Regions from separate parts of the Homo sapiens genome. Here region 1 is linked to region 2. Evidence: fine-mapped expression QTL. A gene starts in region 2. The other region holds a variant in brackets. All regions are shown on one strand. Distances are from middle to middle.

Region 1 (4,394 bases), 49 kb after region 2:
TATTATTTTGGAACAGGGTCTCACTCTGTCACCCAGGCTGGAATGCAGTGGCACCATCATGGCTCACTGCAGCCTCAACCTCCCTTGCTCAAGCGACAGGACATATTTTCATCTGGGGCCCTTGAATCCTTTCACAGTTCCCCTAAGCATATTGGATACTTATTATAAAGCAAAAGTAGCCTCTATTGATCTAGACTTATCAATAAAAAGGCCTTTTATGTCCAATCTCTCTCAATGGAAGTGTTATTTGCCTTCCCTAACGGACCTGAAAAATGAAGTCAATAGAGAGATGAAAGGAAAACTTACAGCTTTACTTTTATAATGTCAAGCCATTCTTTTTGTCTCTTCTGAAGTTTTCTGAAATACAAATGCTTCCAACATCCCTGCCTGGATCCTTCTCTAAATTATTTACCACGGATGCTTCTTGCCAATTGTTACCTGGAGGAGTTTGGTGTTTTCACTTTGACCCTGAATACCAGTGCACGCTGGCAGCCACAGCTGTTCCCCACAGCAGGGCAATTTGGGGCAGTGGCCTGGGGCAGTGAGTTTTTTGGGAGGACAGGGGCCTAACTGCTGCTGAGAAATCAGTTACAAGAACTCCCAGCCACCCAAGAGGTCCAGGACCTGAAGGTAGCACTGGAACGCTGCTGCCCGTGAGTCAACATGGAAATCAGCCGCTAAAGCATAGCCCTGCTCCCCTCCACTCCCAGCCTTATCTTCATCTGTCGTGCTCACTTCTGTCTCCATCCCTGCCAACCTCAATGAGAACCACAGTCATTTGGAGGAGACCTTGGAGATCATCTAGCCAAGAGCCATCTAGCCACACTGGAGTCTGAGGTTGCAGTCAGCCATGATTGGACCACTGCACTTAGCCTGGGTGACAAAGTCAGACCTACCCTGTCTCAATAAATAAATAAATAAATAAAAATAAAACAGTTGGAAAAATTCTAATCCCATTAATATACATCAAGATAAAGTACATACATTCATAAAGCTTAGCCTCATGTGGTATGAAGGGTAAATTTATCCCACTGCATTTATAGGTCGATTTCAGGCAGCCCATAACACAACATAGGCTTAAGTTCTACAAGAATGTTGTTTACAACAGAGCATTGTAGAAGATTGAACATCGGGTTCAGACAGGTCTGAATTCAAATCCTACCTCTGCCCTAGAACAACCATATCTTTCAGCACGTTGCCTAATTTGTCTAAGAAGAGAAATCGGAGGTCCAGAGAGAGAAGGTGGTCCTTGGAGCCTGGCTTCTGGAGCTCCATTCACCATGCACTGTGAGCTCACTCTCATGGCCAGCCACCTGTACACAGGGGAGAGGAGAAGATTGAATTGTAGACAGAGTCTTGCTCTGTTGCCCAGCCTGTAATGCAGTGGTGCTATCTTGGCTCACTGCAACCTCTGCCTACCGGGTTCAGGCAATTCTCCCACCTCAGCTTCCTGCGTAGCTGGGATTACAGGCGTGCGCCACCATGCCTGGCTAATTTTTTTTTTTTTGTATTTTTGGTAGAAACGGAGTTTCACCATGTTGGCCAGGCTGGTCTCGAACTCCTGACCTCCAGTGATCCTCCCACCTCGGCCTCCCAAAGTGCTGGGATTACAGGCATGAGCCACCACGCCCGGCCAAGAAGATTGAATTTGGCAGAATCCCCATGATGAAGAGCCCAGGATGTTTTCCAAAACATCCAGCTGAGCCAGGTACTATGGCTCACACCTGTAATCCCAGCACTTTGGGAGGTGTGCAGATTGCTGGAACCCAGGCGTTTGAGGCTAGCCTGGGCAACATAGTGATATCCAGTCTCTACAAAAAATTTAAAAATTAGCCAGGTGTGGTGGCCTGCACCTGTGGTGTCAGCTATGTGAAAGGCTGAGGTGGGAGGACTGCTTGAGACCAGGAGGTCAAGGCTGCAGTGAGCCATGATCATACCACTGCACTTCAGCCTGGGTGACAGGGCAAGATCCTGTTCCCCATCCCCCTTAAAAAAAAAAAACAGCTGATAGTGTGGGAGGAGAGTGAGACCCCACCTCACCCCACCAAGGACATGGTCAAGCTATGAAAGACAAATGCAAATTGCTAGGCAAGAGGCTAGGAGATAAAAGGGGAGGGTTTGTTTAAGGGGGAAGAGAGAAAGAACTCTCTCTTTCCAAAGAAGAGAATAGAGCCAGCAAAATAGTAGGGTCTCATGGGCTGTGTATTTGACCCCTCTTCACAACCCAAAATCTTCAGTAAAATAAATACGTATACTCACAAAACATGTCATGAGGGGGTTTACAGCAGAAACTAACATAGGAAACCAAGGGGATATGTTTGTTCCATGTTGTTCAGGGAAGAAACAGTATACATGGAAACAAGAGTCCAGGAGCCAGAGGAAGATGTTAGAATCTCAGTCCCATGAGTTGGTAAATATCTAG[G/A]GGAGGAGTTTAGACCTCCACAGGCCATTGGATTGGTGGGGGGTTGAGCTAATTGTACCTAGATCTTCAAAATGCAAGGACTGACACGTGGGCTTGAAGACATCTCTGGGGATGCAGCAGGAGTCTCCTGCAGTGTGCCTGGCCCACCTGAGGATGGCCCTGAAGGGTCTGGGTCACAAGGCAAAGGATTTAACCTGGAGAATGAAAGGAGAATGGAAGGTGGAAATGAGGCAACAGCCTGCAGCAGGAGAAATATTTAGTGTAAAGGCAGGATCCCTGTTGTAGTCAATTCAGGCTGCTAGAACAACACACCATAGACTGGGTGGCTTATAATCAACAGGAGTTTGTTGCTCACAGTTCTGGAGGCTGAAAGTCTCCTGGTGCCAGCATGGTTAGGGGCCGGTGATGGCCCTTTTGTGGGTTGCAGACAGCTGTCTTCTCGCTGTAGCCTCACATGGTGAAAAGAGAGCTAGAGAGCTCTCCGGGACCCCTTTTATAGGGACACTAATCCCATTCAAGAGGGCTCCATGCTCATGGCCTAATCACCTCCCAACAGCCCCACTTCCTAATGCCGCTCCACTGAAGGTTAGGATTTTATTAGGTTGGTGCAAAAGTAATTGCAGTTTTTGGCGTTAAAAGTAATATTAGGTGGATTTGAAGGAAAGCAAACATTCAGTTGATATTAATCCCTTTATCGCTGAACTCAGGGTCAATTTGGTGTGAGTGTTCAGGGTAAGAGAAGAGGAAGAGAACACACACACCCCTATACTCCTTCCTGATGTACCCATCTGCATGCTGGCCAGCAACCACGTCCATGCCTCATTTGCCACCTTCATTAAAGCCAGAGCCCCTTACGTTCAAGGAAGCTCACATTCAAAGAAACAGCACAGCAGATAAAACAAGCGTAAAAGCTATTCTCATGTTTACTCAGGTTTCTCAAACATCATTTATGGAACCCCAATGGATAACCCATGGCAATACTTACTACAATTACTAAATTACTAAAATTTCTTGTCTTCCCCGGTGCTGGCATACCCTAGAACTGCCTCTTCTTCCAAACCCCAACTCCAAACTCTCCCTATTGAAAATTGTCCGCATCTCTACCTCTCTCCTCTCCTCTCTTTGTTCTAGATCAACTGAGCCTCTTCAACTTCTATCTTCTATTTTCATTTCTCTTCATTTTCGATCATTACCCTGATCCTCCCCAACTAAGAGGAGTCAAGGAACTGACCCAACAAGCAAGAATCCTTCCTTTTCCCTTCTGCCTCTCCAGTCTCAATTCTCAATTGTCCTAACTGCATCACAACAAGGATGGGACCAAAGCTGATGAAACCAGAACTCTCCCCTGAAGGCCAGGGAAGAAAAGCCAATGGGCAAAACTAAATTCACTCTCCAATGAGAAGGGTAAACAAGGCTGGAACCCACCTATTACTACATCTTATCACTACTGCTAATGGAACATGCACTTTTCAGGGGATTTAATTTGTGGCTTATAAATTGTCCCAGCAAACTCACAAGTAGGTCCTGCAGTTACTGAGTAAAATCTCCAAGAACCTCTCATATCCAGGCTTCTTAGTGGCTCAGTGGGAGAGGTGATCATTCTGATATGGCTGCTTTTGCCTTCCCCAGTGGTGTGAGCAGAATGAACAATGCAGACGGCTCCACGTGCCAGAGCTGCTAGTGGCCCCACTACAGAGGCTCACTCGATATCCGTTGTTGCTGAAGAATATCTGGAAAAGGAGCATGGACTCTGCTGAGAAAATCATGATCTACTCCATCAAGGAAAAGGTGGAAAAGTCCATCCGTAAGTCCCTGAGATAAGTGAGCTTAATTACAGAATTGTGGCCTTGTGACTCCTGGAAACCTTCTGGGCTTCCATCCTAGGAGGTAATTCCACTGATTTGAGGTCATGGCTCTTGGAAATGTGGGTTCAAGTGTGAGTGCATTGTAAATCAAATGCGCACAGAACAAT
Region 2 (4,394 bases):
CTAAAAGGAAGCTCAAATAAATCTCATACCTCTTTTCAACAACTAGAAAGAAAATATCTTTTAGGAATTTGCCAATTCAAAGCCATAAAGTAAGCAAACCAGGATGTCATCTTTTAGCATAGACATACTTTTTAAGGTATACTTTTTATTGAAGCAAAGCATACATAAACGTAAAACTACACACAGGCAAAAAATGCTGAGGCGAGCTGCTCCCTCTGCGATATTGGAGAGCACCTCCATGTGTCATCTGAGAAAGGGCCACAGTGAGGTTGCCCCAGGTTCTTAAAGGAAAAGCTGACTCTGGGGTGTCCCTTCCCCACCCAAAATGCCTCCCTGTTGCCATCTCCTTGACAAATCAGATGGAGGTGGCACATTTTTTTCCGTGATAATCTTTTGTGACCTTTCTATAAGACTCTTAATTTCCTTCTTGAAGTTACAACCAGAGGTTGGAAGTTTTTGCATTGGGATCAAGTATTCCATTATCATTATCCCCTAGGAGAGACAGCTTTACAATCCCATGTGCGTGAGGGGATTGGTAGAAAAGAGTATGACCTTCCTTCCACAAACTAAAAGCTAAAAGACTTTATTCATTTTTTTCCTTCCCAAATTGAAGCAATTCACTTCTAGACATCCTTGGCAGGAGCTCAGAACTGTTTATGCAGGCTCCATGCAGGCAAAATATTTTTTGATATCCTGCTTTTGGTTGAGTCATGGTAATGTTGGCAATGGTGGTGAGGGCAGGAGATCAAGTCATTTTTCAAAGTTCTAAGTAAATGATGTTCTAGTAAGATCAATATGAGAGAATTAAAGACTAATATAAAGTTTATCACAAGGCCAACATCTATAAGTTAGACCTTTTTTTCTTTTCCTCTAAGGGCAGTGGTTCTCAAATTTTAACCCATGTAAGAATCACCTGGAAGTCTTGTTAAACACAGACTTCTGGCTGGGCACAGTGGCTCACACCTGTAATCCCAGCACTTTGGGAGGCCGAAGTGGGTGGACCACCTGAGGTCAGGAGTTCGGACAGCCTGGCCAATATGGTGAAACCCCGTCTGTACTAAAAATACAAAAGTTAGCCGGGCCCTGGTGGTGTGCACCTGTAATCTCAGCTACACAGGAAGCTGAGGTAGGAGAATCGCTTGAACCCAGGAGGTGGAGGTTGCAGTGAGCTGAGATCGTGCCACTGCACTCCAGCCTGAGTGACAGAGTGAGACCCTGTCTCAAAAAAAAACCACGGACTTCTGACCCCATCCCAGAGTTCCAGGGGTTGGAGAGCATGGAGGGGGAAGATTTTTCCTTTCTAACAAGTTCTCAAGTCATAGTGATACTGCTGGTCCAGGGACCCTACTTTAAGAACTACCGACCTCAGGGAACCTTCACAGTAAGTATCTGTAATGAGTCCAATCAATGAAAACTTCAGTGAATTAGACTTCATTAGAATTACTTCAACTTTGTTTTGGGAAAGTCTATAGACATTTTTGTTTAATGCTGCATACATATGCATTATCTCCACCTAGGCATCAAATAAATATTCTTTGGGGTACTGATCTAATGAGAATACTGGTAGATATAAATGCTCTTCCATTTGCATTTTAATTATTTGAAAACTAATGTTCACAAATTCACTCCCTGGTGCTCTAATCATTTCCTCTACTATTCAATGCTTATCAAAGCAAGTCATTAATAAAATAGATCAACACAAAATGTTTTATGATGTGAAGAAAGTAGAGTCCCAAAGAATGCATCTCACAACCTTAGAGAAAATAAATGAAATAGAAACCTAGAACTGCTTCACTGAACTATGAGTGATGATTTGTTGAATGCCTCAAGAGGAAGTAAAAAGTTACATTTGCATCATTTCTGTATTTGATCAGCCGTTGTTTACCTGACTTGTTCTTAGGCTGCCTTAGATTCTGAGCTGGCTTCCCTTTAGGCTTTTTCATAAACAAATAACTGGAAATGTCTCTAAGGAGGGGAGAGACCAGTTCCTCATTGCAGCTGGTAGCAAGGTTGCTTTCACTCAGCCAGGAGGACGCATTGTTACAGGTGTGGAACTTGTTGCTCCGAGCCCTCGCCTGGCAGCTCACTCTGGATCTGCGGGTTCTGAGGAGCCTCGGGACCCACCTGGGTGCAGTTGCCTTCAGGGACAGACCATCTTACAGGTATTAAAGGCAACATTCAGCTGCTTTCTGGGTTTCTCTCTTGCACTTTCCTTTTGTCCTATTGCTATCAGTTTCGCTTGTTTTGCTGATCTCTCCAGGTCTCATTAGAATTAGTGAATCATTAACCTGCAATGGTTTCATTTCTAGTACAGTGAGATGGCTTCCCCAACAGTGTGGGTGGGTGTTTGCTGGATTCTCAAAGCTTGGAAGGTCAAAGGTTGGTGAATTTTCTTTATGGTGACCATGTATTAATTTCCTCTTTTAAACATAAAGAAGAGTTAGCATGAATGGATTGACTTGTTAACTTTTGATTCTACCAGATCCACTGGGTGTAGTCATTTAGGGAAAGCTTCCCAGGAGCCTTAGCCATTATCTCATTTAATTTCTGCAACAGGCCTGTGAGGGAGGTTCTTTGATGTCCTCTTGGTAAATGCTGCATGGCAGTTGGCAGAGGAGAAGTGGCTTGTCCTAGGTCACACAGCCAATTGGCGGTGATACTGGAAGAGAAACCAGACCCATTTCTTCTGGTGCTTGAGCTCTTCCTGCCTTTCTGCAAACCACCTCCCTAAGCCCTGCTGTTTTTAAAGTTTCTCCATTTCCGCAGTGCATCATGTCGGCAGTTACTATTGCCTTGGTTCCAATATTTAAGACAGTGGCTAATAAATAATTCTTACCGATGTGAATCCTATTGGCCATAAATAACTTCCTACCAGCAGCTACACCCCTGTGTCTGAACGACTACAAAGGAAACCCAAAGCCGTATCCTAACCCCTCAAAAGAGGAGAGGAAAAGGCCAGAAGGACAGAGGGGAAACCCAAAGACTAAGAAATCTGATCTAACTATTATGCAAGTGCCTATGCAAATATACTGAATTCCTTTAACATTGTTGCTGCCTAGAACTTGGACAGTCTTCTAAAGGAGAAAAATAATAGAACGGCCCTGATTGTATGTATGTGTGAAAGTACCTATTGATTCAAAATTAGCTGGGTGGGGTGGTAAGCATCCATAGCCCCAACTACTCAGGAGCACTGCAGCATGAGGATTCTGTGAGGCTAGGAGTTTGAGGTTACAGTGCGATATGATCACACCTCTGCACTCAGCCTGGGCGACAGAGCCAGACTCCATCTCTAAAAAGAAAAAAAAAAAGAAAGAAAGTACCTATAGATTTGATGCTCAGCTCAGCATTTGTTTGTTGGGAGAATGAGGAACTGGCCTCTCCATGTAGCAACAATGTACCTTATTTTATCAATGGTAGGGAGGGACCATTTCATACCTCTCCAGCAATGTTGGTATCAACCTTCAGAGCAGCCTCCAGGAATTACCAATCTAAAACCAAAACTAGTACAATCTCACCTTAACTGAACATAAGTTTCCTAAACTGGCATTGCCCTCTTTCCTCCACTCTGCAAAAAAGGGTACCTCATGGGTTTTAGTTCTACATGTGAAGTTCTATAACAATTGAGTCCTCAGCTCAAAATAAAGCAAACACAACATTAAGAATTTTAGATTTCTTTTGTGAATAAGAGTTGAATTGACGTTAGTTTGCATCTAAGTTGTTCCTCAAACAACTCACCAGTCTGAAATCCAGTACCTGTTAGTTTCATTTGGCATTTTAAAAAGGTTTTTATAGAGATGGGGTCTCACTATGTTGCCCAGGCTGGTCTTGAACTTCTAGGCTCAAGGGATCCTCCCGCCTTTGCCTCCCAAAGTGCTCGGATTACAGGCATGAGCCTCTGTGCCTGGACTTACTTGACCTTAAACAAGGTAAGAGTCAGGGAGTAAAATAAGAGACCACAAAGTCCCCAAAATCAATGTCAAGTCACAACATTGTCATGACAATGTCATAACATTGAGCTCCTCCTCTACTGATAGGAATAGATCTAACAACCTATTAATTATCTATTCACAAGGTTGTTGGACTTCTATGACTGACACAGATTAAAAGAAACAAAGAGGAGAGAGTGGTTGCCATAGGCAAGTACAAAAAGCATAGTGAGAAGTAAGGAATAAAAATTAGGGAGTACATTGGTGTGGGGCCATTTGGTGTGGGAGTGAATATTCAGATGCTATAGAAGCCTGTAACAATTATTGTATTCTCCACAGAACTATAGTAAACATAGTAGTAATCACTGTATTTTGGCAAAGTACTAGAATGATAGTCAACAGAATGAGGTCAGGTTATAAGGAAAAGGTTTATTGGTTTTCAGCCTTCTCTATATCAAGTTAAAGAAG

The links. PIP is the estimated chance that this variant, and not a neighbour inherited with it, causes the effect.
Region 1: its variant is the best candidate, but not a certain one, in a credible set for the expression of PLEKHG7 in tibial nerve (GTEx, PIP 0.76).

Annotation. Positions count from the first base shown.
Region 1 is chr12:92,750,039-92,754,432 of GRCh38, forward strand. It overlaps PLEKHG7 (pleckstrin homology and RhoGEF domain containing G7), which reads left to right. Exons shown (of 17, transcript NM_001377329.1): 11 at 4,052-4,226. Among named protein-coding and RNA genes, the nearest start is that of PLEKHG7, 49 kb to the left of the region's middle. The variant G/A (reference allele first, on the strand shown) is at 2,423.
Region 2 is chr12:92,700,971-92,705,364 of GRCh38, forward strand. PLEKHG7 (pleckstrin homology and RhoGEF domain containing G7) reads left to right here and starts at 2,019. Exons shown (of 17, transcript NM_001377329.1): 1 at 2,019-2,162. RefSeq lists an enhancer at 2,160-2,219.